5 linked regions of the Homo sapiens genome follow. The protein of the gene in region 2 purifies or fractionates together with the protein of the main gene of each other region. This does not show direct contact. Each region holds a gene or a part of one and is shown on either strand. Other genes may lie near its edges. The genes, in order: LAPTM4A, UGT1A5, DIPK1A, GLB1L2 and PRXL2A.

Evidence for each region.
Region 1: the proteins of UGT1A5 (region 2) and LAPTM4A purify together in Homo sapiens (affinity purification with mass spectrometry; one large-scale study listed by BioGRID and IntAct). This does not show direct contact.
Region 3: the proteins of UGT1A5 (region 2) and DIPK1A purify together in Homo sapiens (affinity purification with mass spectrometry; one large-scale study listed by BioGRID and IntAct). This does not show direct contact.
Region 4: the proteins of UGT1A5 (region 2) and GLB1L2 purify together in Homo sapiens (affinity purification with mass spectrometry; one large-scale study listed by BioGRID and IntAct). This does not show direct contact.
Region 5: the proteins of UGT1A5 (region 2) and PRXL2A purify together in Homo sapiens (affinity purification with mass spectrometry; one large-scale study listed by BioGRID and IntAct). This does not show direct contact.

The regions. Positions count from the first base shown.
Region 1 is NC_000002.12:20,038,121-20,041,637, forward strand, and holds part of LAPTM4A (lysosomal-associated transmembrane protein 4A), read right to left. Parts: intron 2,892-3,517; coding exon 2,771-2,891; intron 1-2,770. UniProt on the Homo sapiens protein: May function in the transport of nucleosides and/or nucleoside derivatives between the cytosol and the lumen of an intracellular membrane-bound compartment.
Region 2 is NC_000002.12:233,711,613-233,715,721, reverse strand, and holds the start of UGT1A5 (UDP-glucuronosyltransferase 1A5 precursor), read right to left. Parts: upstream 2,816-4,109; 5' UTR 2,731-2,815; coding exon 1,864-2,730; intron 1-1,863.
Region 3 is NC_000001.11:92,954,961-92,958,477, forward strand, and holds part of DIPK1A (divergent protein kinase domain 1A), read right to left. Parts: intron 1-3,517.
Region 4 is NC_000011.10:134,341,973-134,345,489, reverse strand, and holds part of GLB1L2 (beta-galactosidase-1-like protein 2 isoform b precursor), read right to left. Parts: intron 2,737-3,517; coding exon 2,539-2,736; intron 1,104-2,538; coding exon 1,035-1,103; intron 457-1,034; coding exon 361-456; intron 223-360; coding exon of another isoform or gene 177-222; exon of another isoform or gene 1-176.
Region 5 is NC_000010.11:80,429,034-80,432,550, reverse strand, and holds part of PRXL2A (peroxiredoxin-like 2A isoform 1 precursor), read right to left. Parts: intron 566-3,517; coding exon 452-565; 3' UTR 1-451. UniProt on the Homo sapiens protein: Involved in redox regulation of the cell. Acts as an antioxidant. Inhibits TNFSF11-induced NFKB1 and JUN activation and osteoclast differentiation. May affect bone resorption and help to maintain bone mass.

The sequences.
Region 1 (3,517 bases), about 210 Mb from region 2:
ACATACATTACCCTTTGCTCTAGATAAATATAACCTGAAATTCAAATTTCGCCATTAACCTCACTTCCCCACCCAACCTCCCAAACACCAAAATTCATTGCTTCCTGCACCCTGGTATCTATGTTAACACACACTACTTTCTTCTTCGTTTCTCAACTCTTCCTCAGGTTGTTCCAACTCTCCATTAATCCATGTTCACTAATTTTTTCACAAAACAGCCAAGTAATCTCAAGCAATTCTAAACCGTGCCTGACTTACTGAATTTCTTAGCACAAATCTGTAGTTGATTCTGTGACTCTGGACAGTTTTTTCTTTCTTTTCCTGAGACAGAGTCTTGCTCTGTCGCCCAGGCTAGAGTGCAGTGGCGCGATCTCGGCTCACTGCAACCTCAACCTCCCAGGTTCATGTGATTCTCTTGCCTCAGCCTCCCAAGTAGCTGGAATTATAGGCAAGCACCACCACATCCAGCTAATTTCTGTATTTCTAGTAGAGACGAGGTTTCACCATGTTGGCCAGGCTGGTCTAAACTCCCAACATCAGGTGATCCGTCTGGGCAGAGATTAAGAAACTGGGGGGGATGGGCACGGCAACCCACACCTGTAATCTCAGTACTCTGAGAGACTAAGGTGGGAAAATTACTTGAGGCCAGGAGTTCAAGACCAACCTGGGCAATATAGCAAGACCCTGTATGCACAAAAGATGTTTTAAAAATGAAAAAAGAAAAAAAATACTGAGGGCACTAATAATGATGAATGACTAGAACAACTGCTGAATATTCCCTATTGGGTAAATGTATATACAACTTTTTTTTTTTCTTTGAGACAATCTCACTGTCACCCAGGCTGGAGTGCAGTGGCACAATCTCAGCTCACTGCAACCTCTGCCTCCCAGGTTCATGAGATTCTTTTGCCTCAGCCTCCAGAGTAGCTAGGATTGCAGGCCTGCGCCACCAAGCCCAGCTAATTTTTGTATTTTTAATAGAGACAGGATTTCACCATGTTAGCCAGGCTAGTCTCAAACTCCTGACCTCAAGTGATTCACCTGCCTCGGCCTCCCAAAGTGATGGGATTACAGGCATGAGCCACCATGCACAGCATGTATATATAATTTATCACTGGGCAGTAAAACCTCATCAATATTTGGCACTAAACTAGGAATAGTCCTCTTTACTTTTTTCTTAGAGGATACAGGATTGATAAATGTTAAGAATTTAAAGGACTTCCCTGCTACAACATGCAAACTTCCACTTAGAAGAATTCAGGTAAAAACAAAATATGAAATTAAACAGGTATTATCAAACTTGAAAGCAAAATTTGTAATTCAAATAATCGGCTTTCAAGAGTCTGCTATGGGCTGGGCACAGTGGCTCATGCCTGTAATCTCAGCACTTTGGGAGGCTGAAGTGGGAGGGTCCCTTGAAGCCGGGAGCTCAAGACCAGCCTGGTAAAGACAGGGAGACCCGATCTCCACAAAAATTTAGCTACTCAGGCAGCTGAGGTGGGAGGATCACTTGAGCTCAGGAATTCTGGGTTACAGTGAGCTATTACTGTACCACTGCACTCCAGTTGGGACAACAAAGTAAGACCTTTTCTCTAAAAAACTTTTTTTAAACAAATAAATAATATAAATGTGATTTTAAAAATGAAGGGCGCTGGCTGGGCGCTGTGGCACGCCTGTAATCCCAGCACTTTGGGAGGCTGAGGCGGGTGGATCACCTAAGGTCGGGAGTTCGAGACCAACCTGACCAACATGGAGTAACTCTAAAAATACAAAAAATTAGCCGGGTGTGGTGGTGTGTGCCTGTAATCCCAGCTACTCAGGAGGCTGAGGCAGGAGAATCGCTTGAACCCAGGAGGCAGAGGTTGCCCTGAGCCGAGATCGCACCACTGCACTCCAGCCTGGGCAACAAGCGCAAAACTCTGTCTCAAAAAAAAAGAAAGGCATTTATCCCATTCATAAGGGTAGAGCCCTCATGGCCTAATCACCACCCAAGGGTCCTACCTCTTAATATCATCACCTTGGAGGTTAAGCTCCAGCATGTGAATTTTGGAGGGACACATATATTGTAACCATAGCAACTTCTCCTTTCTACTAGTAGCTACATTAAAAAAAAAGTCTTATGAAGCCTGCATGCTTATTTTGATTTCAAGGTACATTTTACACATTTCTCAAAAACTTAATAGTCCATTACATTTTCTGGCTAGAAATGCTCTATTGTAATCCTCACTGAATCTCTCTGAAAAACCCATCAAAATACTTTCCTGCCTCAGCAAGAATGACTTAAATATAATTTAACTTGTTACCCTTATTATGTAACCATTTTAACTTTCTGAAATGTAACTTAAGCATAATCTAATCAATCCCCTAAATAACCAGTGTGTGTGGAGACAGACAGACATGGGCCAACAACATTTTGGTCAACAATGGACTGCATATATCATGAGGGTTCCATAACACTGTAATAGTGTATTTACAGTATTACTATATTTTTCCATCTTTAGATACACACCTATTTGCCACTGTATGATAACTGCCTACAGTATTCGGTACAGTAACCTGCTGTACAGGTTTTAGCCTAGGAGTCTCTACCACATCGCCTAGGTGTATAGTAGGCTACGCTATCTAGGTTTGTGTAAGTACACCCTATGATGTTCACACAACAATATCACCCAGTGACATTTCTCAGAATGTGTCCCCATCATTAAACAACACAGGACTGTATATAAAAATTAGCAGGGGAGATTTTTTTGTTTTTCTATTAAACACATACCAGCCATTCTCTCAGACGAATAGTAATTACCGATGACTTCATACTGAATGTTGACAGCTGGCATGGAGTTTGGATGAGTCACTTCCACAGTCAGCAAAATTGCCATCAATAGGTTTACTACCTGGAAAAGATAACATTCTATCAGTTACATTAATTACCATCACGACGCAATCTTAGCACAATCTCTAGATGTCCTCTCATATTTAAGATTGTCTTACTTGAAGTAACAAAGATATAAAATAGTGGGAGACTACCTGTGAGATAAAACAATACGCAATTACCACTATGAGAATAATTTAAAAATAAATATTTTATAAAGTATAAGTAATATTAACCATTTGAGAGATAAGATGCTTAACCAATACACCAGAAAAAAATTAAAACTAAAGAATCATTACAAATGGTTCATGTTCGAAGCTACCTATTTATTCATATACCAATCTCAGAATTTCTGGATTTGAAGAAGTTACTGTTCATCTGTTATATTTATTCATCAGATGCCCGAAACCCCTCCACAGCATCTCTCATCAGGTGACAGAGAACTCACTATTTCCTCTAGAGCTAGACTCAAATGCTTAAGAGACTTACCAAGATACTGAAAGTCACTTATCTACTAGTCTTACTTTTGTGTGTGTGTGTGTATGTGTATGTGTGCGTGTGTGTGATATGGAGTCTCACTCTATTGCCCAGGGTGGAGTGCAGTGGTGCAATCTCAGCTCACTGAAGCCTCCCCTTCCTAGGCTCATG
Region 2 (4,109 bases):
TGGCACACTGCAGCCTCCACCTCCTGGGATCAAGTGATCCTCCTGCCTCAGCCTCCCGAGTAGCTGGGACCACAGGTGTGCACCATCACACCTGGATAATTTTTTAATTTTTTGTAGAGATGGAGTCTCAGCATGTTGCCCAGGCTGCTCTCAGACTCCTGGGCTCAAGCAATCCTCCTCCCTCGGTCTCCCAAAGGGCTGAAATTACAGGTGTGAGCTACCCACTTGCACACAAATCATTTTCAAATTAAAAGAGATGGGGAATTCAAAAAATAACATAGGAGTCACATTACTGATATCAGATAAAATGTATTTTAAGGATTATTATTTAATGATAACAGCAAACTGTGAAGAAAATATAAGTCTCAAACCTCAAACCTACATGCACCAATCTAATCACTATGTATAAAGCAAAACCTATTCAAGAGCCAAAATATAACTGGAGGAGAATTTGTTATGTAAGGGGATTTTTTAAAAGACATCCTTCACAGAATTGGGCAGATTCAGTAGAGGGTCTTTTAAAAGATAGAAAAATTGCCTAGGTGTGGTGGCTCGCGCCTGTAATTCCAGCACTTTGGCAGGCTGAGGTGAGTGAATCACTTGAGATCAGGCATTTGAGATCAGCCTGGCCAATATGATGAAACTCCATCTCCATAAAAAATACAAAAAAAAAGAAAATTAGCTGGATGTGGTGCCATGCGCCTGTAGTTCCAGCTACTTGGGAGGCTGAGGCAGGAGAATCAGTTGAACCTGGGAGGTGGAGGTTGCAATGAGCCAAGATCCCACCACTGCACTCCAGACTGGGTGACAGAGCAAGACTCCATCTCAAAAGATAGAAAAATTTAAAAGATAGAATTTTAGTTTTATCCATGGAATATTTATAAACATTCACCATATTGTTGTCACTAACTACATATGAATATTGAGCACTTGAAATGTGGCTATTCCAAATTGAGATATACTGTAAGTGTCAAATATATGCTAGATTTTGAAGACTTAACAACAAAAAAAGCTACGTTAAACAGTTCACATGTTGAAAGGATAATATTTGGGATACATCTGGTTAAATAAAATGCATTATTCACATTAATTTTAGTGGTTTCTTTTTGCTGGTGTTTAACATGCCCACTAGAAAAGTTTAAATTATGTATGTGGTTTACATGATATTTCTATTGGACACTTCGGTATTAGACCATGAAGTTAACCTAGTAAGAATTTTTTTTAAGTAGTGTCTTCACAAGAAACATTCTCCTATTACAATCCAACACTCCCTCTCTGGAAACTGAACTCTGTGTTTCATTCTCTGATCACAGACATCCATTGCACCTACATTGGCCCAATTCCACTGAACTGAGTCAACTTCTTTGAAACCTCTACTTCCTCTGAGTGCTTAGGTCTCCTGTGGTCACCTCTCTATCTTTTGCAAGATGGGACCACTAAAAATTGTCACGTCAACAATTGTAAATTTCTATTCCTTCCTCCTTTCTACTGAAAATCTTGCCAGCAAGATTGGATGGATCAGTTCTCAGTGTAGTGTCCCTGCTCCTGCCCAGCTGAAGCACATCCACAGCCATGAAGATGGTGCTTTTACAAACGAACAGTCTCCGTGAGTCACACCACTCTTGCCCATCCTTTGACAGATCCTCGTCCCTGCCTCTCCTTCCTCTCAGTGGCCATTGAAACCCTGAACTGCACTACCATTGACCCTTTAAAAGTTTATCTCACTGAAGACTATTACAACAATGAGAAGCAGAAATGAAATCTTTGGAAAGATAAGTAGATATGGAAGCACTTGTAAGTAAATACATTTTTTAAAAAGTGTTTTGCCTGGAACATTGATTGGATAAAGGCACCAATACAGACCTGAGATAGTGGCTTCCCGTTGGCACAGTTGATGCCCCCAATGAAGACCATGTTGGGCATGATCGGCCTGGGGTAATCCATCACAAAGTCCCCTCGGAACAGCCACACAGATGCATGGCTGACAAGATCCACCACTGACACCTCTCTCTGAAAAAGCTCAGAGGCAAGGCTTGCATAAGGAGCAGAAACAGCATGGCAAAGGTAGGACAGGGCCAGAGGGTAGAGCATGTTCTTGACCCTTTGCAGGAATGTCATGTGGTCTGAATTGGTCGTTAGTAATCTAGGAATATAGGAGGAAGGGTTTGGACACTGTGTGCCCTTAAAGTCTAAATCACATGGAATGTTCCTCAAGAAAAACACAGCAGGAATCGACAGGTACTTAGCCAGCACCGCCGCGCAGAGGTGAAAGGGGTCTGTTAGAACCACATCAAAGGAAGTAGCATGCAGGTGCCTGATCAGGGCCTCATTATGCAGTAGCTCCACACAAGACCTATGTATGATCAAAGACATATTGTTCATAATTGCCATTCTTCTAGAAAATTTCATCAGAAGATGTTCTGTTTCAAAGAACGATTGAGTGTGACCCAGCAAAAGGCGATCAAATTCGTCCTGGGTCCATGAAATGGCATACGTTGTCAGGGTGAAAAAGTTCTCTTCTTTGATGTACATATTCACCTCCAGGGTGAGGACCACCACCTGGTGGCCTCTCGCATGGAGGTCCCGCAAGGCCTCCCGCATGCTGAGCCAGTGGCTGCCATCAGTGGGCACCACCAGCACCTTCCCACTCTCAGCCCAGGGCTGGACACTGAGGAGAAGCAGCAGTCCTGTGGCCAGCTGCGGCAGGGGAACCTGGAGTCCTGTGGCCATCTCAGCAGAAGCCACCGACAGCTGACTGTCCACCCCACGTTGTGCCTCCTAGAATTGTTTCCTTCGTCTTAATTACCTTGTCACTGAGACACCTAGCAAATCAACATGTAATTGAAGACAGAGTGCCCTCCTCCAGTTACTTATTACCCGTTAATCTATAATTGTCTTGCATTATGGGCCCCACCCTGGGAAAGACCGATCACTCCTATCTTGAAAAACTCATCTGACCTTGCGCTCGCTCTGGGGAACATCCAAGTTCAAGCTCTTGTTTCTCATTCAATTCCCAACACAAGGCTGTGAACCCCCATTTCATGTCACTGTCTCCTACTTCTCTCTTAACCACGTTTATCAGGCTGCAGCTGAGGTCTGAGGAGTCACCATTGCCCTAGTCCCCAACCATATGGTCTCTGCTGGATGTGACCCTATTTGCTAACTCTTAATACTCTTTCTTCCCACATATGGGTAACACAGCACATCCAAAATGCAGACAACATTGCTAAGCCAGCTTTCTTTAAACAGGGAGTGGGGAGGCTGGCTATCTGGTTTTGGTCGTTTTTCACACCAGGATATTTCTTGTAAAGCTCAAAGAGGACTCTCTCTGAAGTGGCTGTCAATATAAAAAAAGCTGCAGGGAGGCTGAGCTCAAGATGTGATGATCAGATTCTTGGAAAGGCTTTGTTGAGGATTCTCCATCTACACCATGGAAGAAGAGGTGCTGCTGTCTAAAGCACACATGTGCAAGACAACCCTAGCAAAGACCCATGGTGGGTTCAGGGAGCTCCTGCTCACCAAGGGACCGGGGGAGCTGGAGCCTGGCCTCAGATCTTGCACAGTCTGAATTCCTCTTCTGAATGCTGAAGGCTCCAGTCTTCTGCAAGTCTGCTTAGAGACTGAAGTGTCCATTCATCCAGGCCTTTATTTCATCCTGAAGATTATGGTCAGGCTTTTTTCCAAGTCAATCCAGCACCAAGTTCTGATAAGAATGGTTCCTCCAGAACAGAATAATTTGTGGGGGCTCTAGTTCAAATTTCAAAATGGAGAATTAAACGTGTGCCTTTCTAATGGAGAGACCCTGAGCACTCACAATGGTCTCACGCCCATGAGACTCGTCCTGCTCCAGAAAGTCACTCATACTTGTGCTTGGCAAGATTGCTGACGCCTCCTTGTCCTGGTCGCCCCAGGATGATGTGGGCAGGCTCTCTGGGCTGTGCACACTTTCTATCTCACTTCCTCTGTGTCTACATGCCTGGCCGTGTCTGCCATTGCTGGTGAAGCTGAGGCTTCCCTTAGGGAGGAAGTTACCCCCATTAGAAATCCACATTGATAATAGATTCCACCTTTGGACAGAACCCATGGGACAGGCAGCGAATGGAGCTGTC
Region 3 (3,517 bases), on a different chromosome or scaffold from region 2:
ATAAACTGTGGTACACCCAGACAACGAAATATTATTCAGCGTTAAAAAGAAATGAGCTATTAAGCCATGAAAAGCCATAGAGGAGACGTAAATGCATATTACTAAGTGAAAGAAGCCTATTTGAAAAGGCTACCTAAAATACTACGTGATTCCAACTAGATGACATTTTAGAAAAAGGCAAAACTATGGAGACAATAAAGACCAGTGGCTTTTGGGGGCTCAGTGGGGACAGAAGGATAAATAAGCAGAGCACAGATTTTTAAGGCAGTGAAACTACACTCTATACAATAATGATGGATACATGTCATTATGCATTTATCCAAACACACTGAATGTACAACACAAAGAATGAACTCTAATGTAAAACTATGGACTTTGGGTGATAATACGTCAGTGTAAGTTCATTAACTGTAAAACATGTACCATTATGTGGGGGATGTTAAATATAGGGGAGGGGGCTGGGCACGGTGGCTCACGCCTGTAATCCCAGCACTTTGGGAGGCCAAGGCAGGCAGATCACGAGGTCAGGAGATCGAGACCATCCTGGCTAACACAGTGAAGCCCCGTCTCTGCTAAAAACACAAAAAATTAGCCAGGAGTGGTGGCGGGCACCTGTAGTCCCAGCTACTTGGGAGGCTGAGGCAGGAGAATGGCATGAACCTGGGAGGCAAAGCTTGCAGTGAGCTGAGATCGCACCACTGCACTACAGCCTGGGTGACAGAGTGAGACTCTGTCTCAAAAAAAAAAAAAAAGAAAAGAAAAGAAAGAAAAAAGAAAAAAAAATGAAAATAGGGGAGGGGCCAGGCACAGTGGTTAATTCCTATAATTCCAGCACTTTGGGAGGCCAAGGCAGGAGGATCACTTGAGCCCAAGAATTCAAGACCAGCCTGGGCAATGCAGTGGGACCACTGTCTCTTAAAAAAATATTTAAATTAGCTGGACTTGGTGGGATGTGCCTGTAGCTACTCAGGAGGCTGAAGCAGTAGGATCACTTGAGTATGGGAGGTAGAGGCTGCAGTGAGCCATGATTGTGTCACTGAACTCCAGCCTGGGTGACAGAGGGAGATCCTGTATCAAGAAGAGAAAAGAAAAGAAGAAAAGGGGAAAAAAAAGAAAAGAAAAGGAGGGAGGCTATTCATGTGTCAGGACAAGGGGTATATGGGAAATCTCTCTGCATTCCTCTCAATTTTGCTGTGAACTTAAAATGGCTCTAAAAACTTTTAAATCTTTAACTTAAAAAAAAAATCTGAGGCACTGAGAAGACTACAGTGAAGAAACACTTTTACTGTATGGTCCAGTTTGAAAGAAATGTGGTAAGGATGCAATCTGCCTGAGAATTCACCATTTCTTTGAGCTTCTAACAAAGGTTCAAAAGCAACTAATGGTAATATCAAGTGGCTCTCTGTACACATACCAGTCTCAGAAAGCTAATCATAGTTCTGGAGATTAAATTTCAGGCAAAGGCAAAAGCTAATCTCTGAACAGCAGGTCTAATAAAGTTAATGAGAACTATACAAACTACAGATCTTCTCCCTCTATTGTCTTTGGAGGATAGAGAACAACCATAGGCTCTAATTATCCTTAGATTTAAAATAATCCTGGAGACTGAAAATGGGCAAAAAGCCCATTTTTACTACAGTATTTGGCAACATTACTACTATTACCAATTAATCTGTATCAGTAACCCTGTCTGGCACTAAATCTCACAAAATATCCACATTAACTCATAAGGAACCAAACCATCCACAGCAGTCATGTTTGAAAAATTGTACTAATACGAGCCAAAGTGCCAGGTATCAGAAATGTTAAACAAGTGCAAACACCCTAGCTAGAACATGCCATCTACCCATTCACTCATAACAACCCTACTGAACACATACTGAAATTGCTAGGGCAGTCATTTTCAAGAGGATACTTCTAAAACTTTAAGCCCCTTACAAGCAAAACGGCTTGAAAACCTTCAAAGGACCCAAGTACATGGGACTTCAAATTCCATTAGAACTGCACCAACTTTTCATATGCAACAGAACACATAGGCAGAATGATTGGAATGGAAAATGTGTATAATCTAAGTACAGAGAATTATGCTGAATTGTCTTGACTTTCATTCTTTCAGGACTTAACGATGGTGAGAAGGAAGAAGGTATTTTAAACCAAAACCAACAAATTATAGGGTTGCTGTGTTATCAGCTTCACTCAGACTATGAGTAAACCCTAAACAAAGTAGATCTTAGTTTGTAGAAAACACACTGCTAAAAAAAGACAAATGCAGGTGTCATTCTGGGTTATCACACCCAAGCAGGCCACAAGTAGTATGCACCATAATGGCACGTGGAAGAAAATACTGCCTAAAAATGGTTTAAGCAGTTAATACATCCACAGTTTCTGATCTCAGAGGCAGGATTCTACTCTGTTCAATGTGCTGCATCATTTAGCCAGTCCAGGAAGTGTTATTTCCCAAGTAATGTTTCAACAAAATATCTGGAAAACATGGAACTGTAAATTAGCTTGCTTGCTCTGGGCAAGATGCCTTGCCATGAGAAGCTTGTTGCTCAGGTAAACGTCTGTTGGCCCTTCCAGGCAGGTCACAAGTCCTTCTAGCCCACAGAGAGGCTGCACAGACTAACAGTGTGCCTGCCCAGCTCCCCTGGAAGAAGTGCTCCCTGCACCAAAAAGCTGACCTTGGTGGAATCTGCAGCAAAAGGCAGAGAGAAGAAGGACGACTTTCATGAGATAAACTCGGTTCATTTATTTTTCAACTGTTTTATGGAGATATACTAATAATTCACATATCCTACAATTTATTCATTTAAAGCATAACGTTCAGTAGGTTTTAGTATATTCACATACTTGGGCAACCATCACCACTATCAATTTTAGAACATTTCTGTCCCCCTCAAGAACACTTCATATCCATCAGTAGTTACTCCCCATTTCCCCCCAGGCAACCACTAATCTATCTTTTTGTCTTTATAGATTTGCCCATTCTGGACATCTCATATGAATGAAATAATACGTGATCTTTTGTGACTAGTTTCATATATTTAATGTTTTTAAGGTTCATCCATGTTACAGTGTGTATCAGAACTTCATTTCACTTTATTGCTGAATAATATTCTGTTGTATGCATATACCACACAAGTTCTTTTCTTCACAGGCAGTAGAATCTCTTCTGCTATATAAGCAAAGCTATAAACAGTGAATAGGTGCCTGCATTAGCTCATGAATGTCTATTATGGCTGAAAATATATCATTAATTGTGTAATGCCACAGTTTTCCAAAAGCGTTACCAAATGCCACAGTGATATCTGGATTAATAAAAATACTGAGAATGAAGTTCCTTTACAAGTAAGCTGACTGCTTAAAAGTTTTCTCCTGTACACTGCAGAAAAAAGGGAACTCACAGCTCCTAAGGCCTGAACACCTCAGGACATAACTGGTCTTTGACCCCATCCAGTTAAAGACAAACAGCATAACTGCAAGTATACAAAGCTGGTCTCTGCAACCTTTCTCTCCT
Region 4 (3,517 bases), on a different chromosome or scaffold from region 2:
CAAAAAAAAGAAACAGACAGGGAAGGTCGGATTTTTCCCATACTGCAGACACGCAGGTGAATGACCTGCCAGGACTCACAGCTCCACAGCAGAGTCCTGAAGCATGAGATGCCAGGAGGGCCAGCCCTGCTGCTGCCTGTCACACAAGCAGCCCATGCATGGCTACGTGAGGGCACTCACTGCAGCATCACTGAAAGCGATCCCCTCTGGGTGCTGCTTTTCCTGAAAAGGAAATTCAGTACAGAATGGGAACTGGAACACAATTCAGTACAGAATGGGAACTGGAACACAGAAACAAACCAGACCTATGTCTGTGAGCTTTTTGCCACAGCACACAGGACCCTTCACAACCCCGCTTACCTGGGCAAGCCCCCGAGGTCCATCTCACTGCAGATGTAGGGGCCTGGACGCAGAATCACCCACAGCCCGATCTCTGCGGCCATCAGGACGAAGGCCCTAGGGAGGTCCACATCGTCAGCCCCTCCCACGACGGCCCAGGATGAGGCCGGGTGGGGGCCACGCGCATCACAGGGTGGAGGAGCTGCCTGGTGGGGCGAAGGGACGGCTCGGCCCCACCCCCAAAGCGCGGGGACTCCCACACCAGGTCGGTGGCCTGAGCTGCTCCCAGCCTCAGAGCCTCTGCACAGCCCCATCGGGGGCCTGAGGAGGAAGGGTGACACCCAGGGCTCAGTGGTCTCAACAGTGAACCTGACCCCATAGCCTTGCTAGCCTAGAGGGGCCGCCCTGCCCCAGCCCAGCGGCCGGACCCCATGCAGAGTCGGGCGGCTCCCAGGGTCTTCTGCCCCTCTGGGCTGCAGTGGAGAGGTGGGGCCCGGAGGCTGCAGGCCCAGTCCCTCTGGGTGACAGGTCACGACTGGGGAGCGTCTGGGTCCTGGGTGCAGGGCCTCTCACAGTCCTAGAACAGGACTCCAGACCCACGTCCCTCCCTGGTTCTCTTTGGTTGCTAATCCACCCCAGTAGCCACCTCTGTGCCCTGCCCCTGGCCAGTTCACAGAAGCAGCAACACCACATACTCCAGGTCCAGGTTCCCAGAGAAGTCAAATTTGCCTCTTTCTGGCTCATGCAGGTTCCACGGAACATAGCTGCAACAGAAATGATAATTATAGGCTAGAGCATGTCATTCATTCCATTTCACCTCTCACATTACCTTCTTTAGCCCAAAAATCCAATATGATGGCTAAAGATATGTTTCTTCATGATTTTAGGACTGGAACCAAGAACTAAGTGAACTGATCTAGGGACCAGAATCGAGGGCAAGCCCTCTTCCCTCTGCATCAACAAGATTTGGATGAAGCATAAGACCGGCTGAGTAAAAGGTCAGGCGCTCTGACCCCAGTTAGCTTACCATGCCCACGCCCCATTGGAGAAGAAAATGTAACTTTATCAAAAAAACAGCTACAAGGAGTAAGGGGAAAGCTCGGTGATCATCCTATATTTACTGAAGCCCCGGAATTCCAAAACGGGCAACAGAATGAAGCTTCCAACTCGAAAGACAGGACAAGGGATGGAGCAGGCTCATGGACAGGCTCAACTCGAGAGGCGGAAGGGACGACTCATGGATGACACAGTGATGGCAGCTGCTCTTCTCCCGGCCCCACCCCATCGCTGGCTTTCGCAGAGCCTCTGCCCACTACAAAGAATATTCTCAGATGAAGGAGGAGAGCCTGCCTGGCTTCCAACCCAGACACACGAGCTCTGCCTTTCAGCAAGTGTCGTCGGTGCTGCTTCTGCGAGTCAGAGTGCTGAGCCTGCAGCACTCCCACAGCCTTCAGGAGTCCTTTCGGGGAAGTTGTCAAGGCTCGGCAGGTTTCTGTAACTCTTTAAGGAACTGTCTTCAAAATCAGTTCATAAACCACCCATGAAAAGCCATCTCCTTGATTTGTAATCACATATTTTTGCCTAAACATGGAATAATCCAGCCTGATCACCCCCTTTATTTCATAGACTTAGCGTCAAGTATCAGTTGGCAATTTGGGGGGAAAACCCATGAAAAGATCCAGGTTATTCACAACTGAGCACACTTTATAAATGATTTGCAAGTTCGACATTTTAGTGCGTGCCTACCATGTGCCAATCATCACAGCAGAGGCTGGGATGGCAACCACAGCATTCTAAGACCACTGCCCAAGAGGAGTGCTGAAAACTGGGGCCAGAGAGCCTCTCAGGCAGCTCTCCTGAAGAAGACTCCGTTCACTGGCTGTATAAACTGGAAGTGGGAAGACTGCTTGTAACACAAAAAGATTCGCTAGCACTGAATCACCTCCTCAATCTGCACTCACCGCCTTCCCTATACTCTTTTGTGCGACATTGCTACTGCGGTTCCTCTAGACCTCACATCCATTTCATGTCCCTTGGCGCCCATGAGTCAGGAGCTCTGTGGTGGGGAGGAGGAGGGAGACCCTGGCTCTCTCGCCCTGGGCAGAGGACCTGGGCCGGTTCCTCTTATATTTTTTCGCATGCAGACACCAGGCGCCCTGCTTAGGAACCAGGCTCCGGGGGGACAGGGGCAGCACCTACGTGGTGAGGGTGTTCAAGCCACAGGCCTTCATCTTCAGCAGGCGGTCCCTCCAGTACTCCCTGGGCACACGGAAATAGTGGATGGAGCCCCCGAAGATCCAGAAGGTGGAATCCTCCAGCATGAAGTTCCAGCCCTTGGCCTGCAGCCCCAGCTGTCGATGGCGGAGCCGCAGAGGGACCAGGGTGCTCCAGTCCAGCCTGGAAAGACAAAGACATTCTGGAGCCTGGAGGCTCCGGGCCGCAGAGAGATCGGCTTCCTCGCCCCTTCGCAGGTCCTCGGCATTTCTCTCTCGAGGGCGCCTGCGTCCAGGTGGCTGGGAAAAGCTCCCCTCCGCCTCAGCCAGACCTGGGAAGGGGTCTTTCTTCAGCACGGGGCCCCGCGGCAGGGGAAGGGCAGGCCGAGGCTGCAGCCGGCAGCAAGCACAGCACTCGGCATGGAGGCCGGCGGGCTGAAAGGAGAGACGGCAGCCGTCACGCCACGGGAGAGGCTGCTGCTGGGGCCGGGGCGGGGCGGGGCGGGCGCCGCACGGGCTTCACCGTGGCCAGCCCCGCGGCCACGCGCGACAGCGACTTCACACGGTACCTCCGAGCCCCGGCACGGTCGCAGCCGCCCGACCGCAGGAGCAGAGACCTGGAAAGAGGGTCTGCGTTGGCGGCGTCCACCCATCCACCCGATTCCAGGTCTTCATTATTTTCTGAAGACCGCGCACCCCCCACGAGGTGACCCAGCTAGAGCAGAGTCCCCCACGGGAAGGCCGTCGAAGGCTCCGGTCCGCGAGAAAGCGCCTCTCGGCATCTCTCGGGGTCGGCCCCAGGGAGCCCCTCAGCCGGGTCCCAGTGACTCGGTGCTGCCGGGTGGGTCTCCTTCCCACCCTGTCTCCCGAAAGCCGTGCGAGAAGCTGGGGAGACCCACATTTCAAGTCAGGAAGGTCAGGAAAGCTGGAGGCATGAAACAAGGGCGTGGCTGAGTCCGGGGCAG
Region 5 (3,517 bases), on a different chromosome or scaffold from region 2:
TCCTGCCTCAGCCTCCCGGGTAGCTGGGACTACAGGTGCCTGCCACCACACCCGGGTGATTTTTGTATTTTTAGTAGAGACGGGGTTTCGCCATGTTGCTCAGGCTGGTCTCGAACTCCCGACCTCAAGTGACTTGCTCACCTTGGCCTCCCAAAGTGCTGGGATTACAGGTGTGAGCCACTGCACCCAGCCTGGCAGTCAATTTTAAGCCTCCTATTTCCCAGGTTTTAGCTTAATAATCCTCATTAGTTTTTCAGATTTTTGTCAGTCTTGTTTTGGGGCTATTTTGCCTTAGTGGGCCTAAACAGAATATTAAAATACATTAATAATCCATACTGAGAGTAGAGTATAAATGGGTTTCTCACTCCTTAGGGACACGAGTGGAAACAATACATCCCATGAACACAGGTGAATGTCCCTGGTTATCCCTGAGCTGGGCAGTTTCACACAATCATTTTTTCTCTGAGGCCAAAGTCTGTGGTTTGATCATCTTAGCAGCTTCCAGAACAGAAAGTAGGTTTACTTTGTCTCCAAATTCTTTTTCTCGGTGCTCAAGAAGAATGCCCTAAAAGGAAACAAGAGATAATGTCAGTCCTCATCCTAAATCGTTCGTTCATGAGACAGGCATCGAGGACCAGCTGTCTGTCAAGCCTTTTGCTTGAATAGCAAAGGACACAGATCCAAATATGGCCTGGCTCCTGCCCTCAAGGAGTTCAGTCTTTGAGGGAAGATAGACCGGAGAAGGCCACATCCATCTGGCCTGTACCAGCAGCTCTAGAAGCAGGAAGTCAGAAGTGATAAAGCATGACAAGGGCAATCAGGGAAGGCCTCACAGAGGCACGGAGGGTAACCAGGATGTCTACAAGTAGAGATGCAGGTAAAAGAACATACCAGGTGAAGAGAAAAAAATGAAGCTAACACAGAAAGGCCCAAAGGTGTGGAAGTGGAGCTCAGAGGTTAGACTTTGGAAGGCACTGAATGACCATCTAAAAGAGAGACCCTCATTTTTCTTTAGTCTTCTAAGAAACTGGAAGCCACTTTCTTCTCATACAGTGAAAAAAAATGCACTAAGACACAAGATACCCCAAAGTTATCTAAAGTTGGAGGTAGTAAAAAAAAGACAAAATAACATGTTTGAGATCAGCATCAAGGAATCCTTGTTAGAGTTCTTTGATTCATTACATCTGGAAACTCATCTTAAAAAGAAAATCTGTAAATACACTGTGTCATTATTTATAAAGACTTAAAAAAAAAAAAAAGGCCCACCACACTGCAGAGATTATGGGCAAGCAGATCAGAAAATTATATTTACTTGCTCAGTAAACCATAATACAGACATTAAAAATACTAATAGGCTGCGTGCTGTGGCTCACACCTGTACTCCCAGCACTTTAGGAGGCTGAGGTGGGCGGATCACTTGAGGTCAGGAGTTCAAGACCAGCCTGGCCAACACGGTGAAACTCGGTCTCTACTAAAAATACAAAAATTAGCCAGGTACGGTAGCTCAAGCCTTTAGTCCCAGCTATTCAGGAGGCTGAAACAGGATAATCCCTTGAACCTGGGAGGCTGGGAGGCGGAGGTTGCAGTGAGCCGAGATCGCGCCACTGCACTCCAGCCTGGGCGACAGAGCAAGACTCCATCTAAACAAACAAACAAACAAAAACACGAACAAAAAACTAACAATATATAGTGACATAGGAAAATGTTCACAATATACTGTTAAATGAAAAAAGAACATCTAGTACAATTTTCTAGAGCAAAGCAAAACAAAAGGAAAGGCCATTCAGCTTTGTTCCAGTGGATTTTCCACGGTGGCTGAGCTCATAGGATGGTTTTCCCCACCTTCTATGTTCTGCTGTTTTTAAATTTTCTGTAGTGCAAACACACTTTTTATTTATTTATTTACAGACAGGGTCTTGCTCTGTTTCCCAGGCTGTAGTTCAGTGGTGCGATCATAGCTTACTGCAGCCTTGAACTCCTGTGCTCAAGAAATCCTCCTGCTTCAGCCTCCCAAGTAGCCAGGACTACAGGTGCATGTCACCACGCCGGCTAAACTTTTTTATTCTTTATAGAGATGGGGTTTTGCTATGTTGCCCAGCTGCTTCTTCTTTAAGAATGCTTTCAAGATTATTATTAAAAAGAAAATTCAGGCAGGGTGCGGCGGCTCACGCCTGTAATCCCAGCACTTTGGGAGACCAATGTGGATAGATCACTTGAGGTCAGGAGTTTGAGACCAGTCTGGCCAACATGGTGACACCCTGCCTCTACTAAAAATACAAAAATTAGCTGGGCATGGCAGCGGGTACCTGTAATCCCAGCTACTCGGGAGGCTGAGGCAGGAGAATCGCTTGAACCCGGGGGGGTGGAGGTTGCAGTGAGCTGAGATCGTGCCATTGCACTCCAGCCTGGGCAACAAGAGTGAACCTCTGTCTCCAGAAAAAAAAAAAAAAAAAAAAAAAAAGGAAATCCCCACCACCCCAATTTTAGACTACAAAAACTCTACACCCAACAAGAACTGAAGTAAGTCCTGAAGTTCAGCTAGCCAGTTAACCTTCCGCCTAGGAGAATGAAGGCCAGGGGCTCCAGGGAATACGAACAAAAGTCAAACACACCTAGCAACATCAGAAACATGCCAGTAGGGCCCATGAGCACCAGATGAGTCATCGCCAGGCAAGAAAAGGCTGGCAGGCATGCCAAGCCCTGCCCTAGAGGCCATGAGAAGGCAGAGGCGGGTAGGGGAAGGAACCCCACGTTGTCAGAGTGGGAAGAGGATGGGCAATCCACTGGGGAAGTGGCCTGCCCAAGCATAAGGACATCAGGAAGTGGTCGCTGGGAAACACCTCCAAGGAGAGGCTAGGGGCAGGGCAGGGCAGGAGAGGCTAGGGGCAGGGAAGGGCAGGAGAGGCTAGGGGCAGGGCAGGGCAGGAGAGGCTAGGGGCAGGGCAGGGCAGGGCAGGGCAGGAGAGGCTAGGGGCAGGGCAGGGCAGGAGAGGCTAGGGGCGGGGCGGGGCAGGGCAGGGCCGGGCCGGGAAGGGTCTCTGGAGTTTGACAGATTTGAGTTCCTAAGTTTCATTTCCATTGTACCACTTAGCTGTGTCTTTGGCTGAGTTATTTTAAATCTCTAGGCCAACTGCTGTATATGTGGATGGGAATAAAAATGCCTAACATCCTAGACTGGTTGTGAGGAAGACATGAGACCATGTACTTGAGCACGTAGAACAAGACAGGCACTCATTGGAAACCATTATTACTAAGACACTTTGACAGATTTACCAGAAAATTAGCAAATAGGTTTATGTTAAATCAGACACCATTTTATGCTAAATTCTAATATAGTCAAGCGAATCAGTTACCAAGCTGTAAAAGGAAGACATAAGAAATAAAGCTCAGGCCAGGCGTGAGCTTGTAATCCCAGCACTTTGGGAGGCTGAGGCGGGCAGATCATGAGTAGAAACCCTGTCTCTACTGAAAATACAAAAAAATTAGCTGGGTGTGGTGGTGGGTGCCTGTAGTCTCA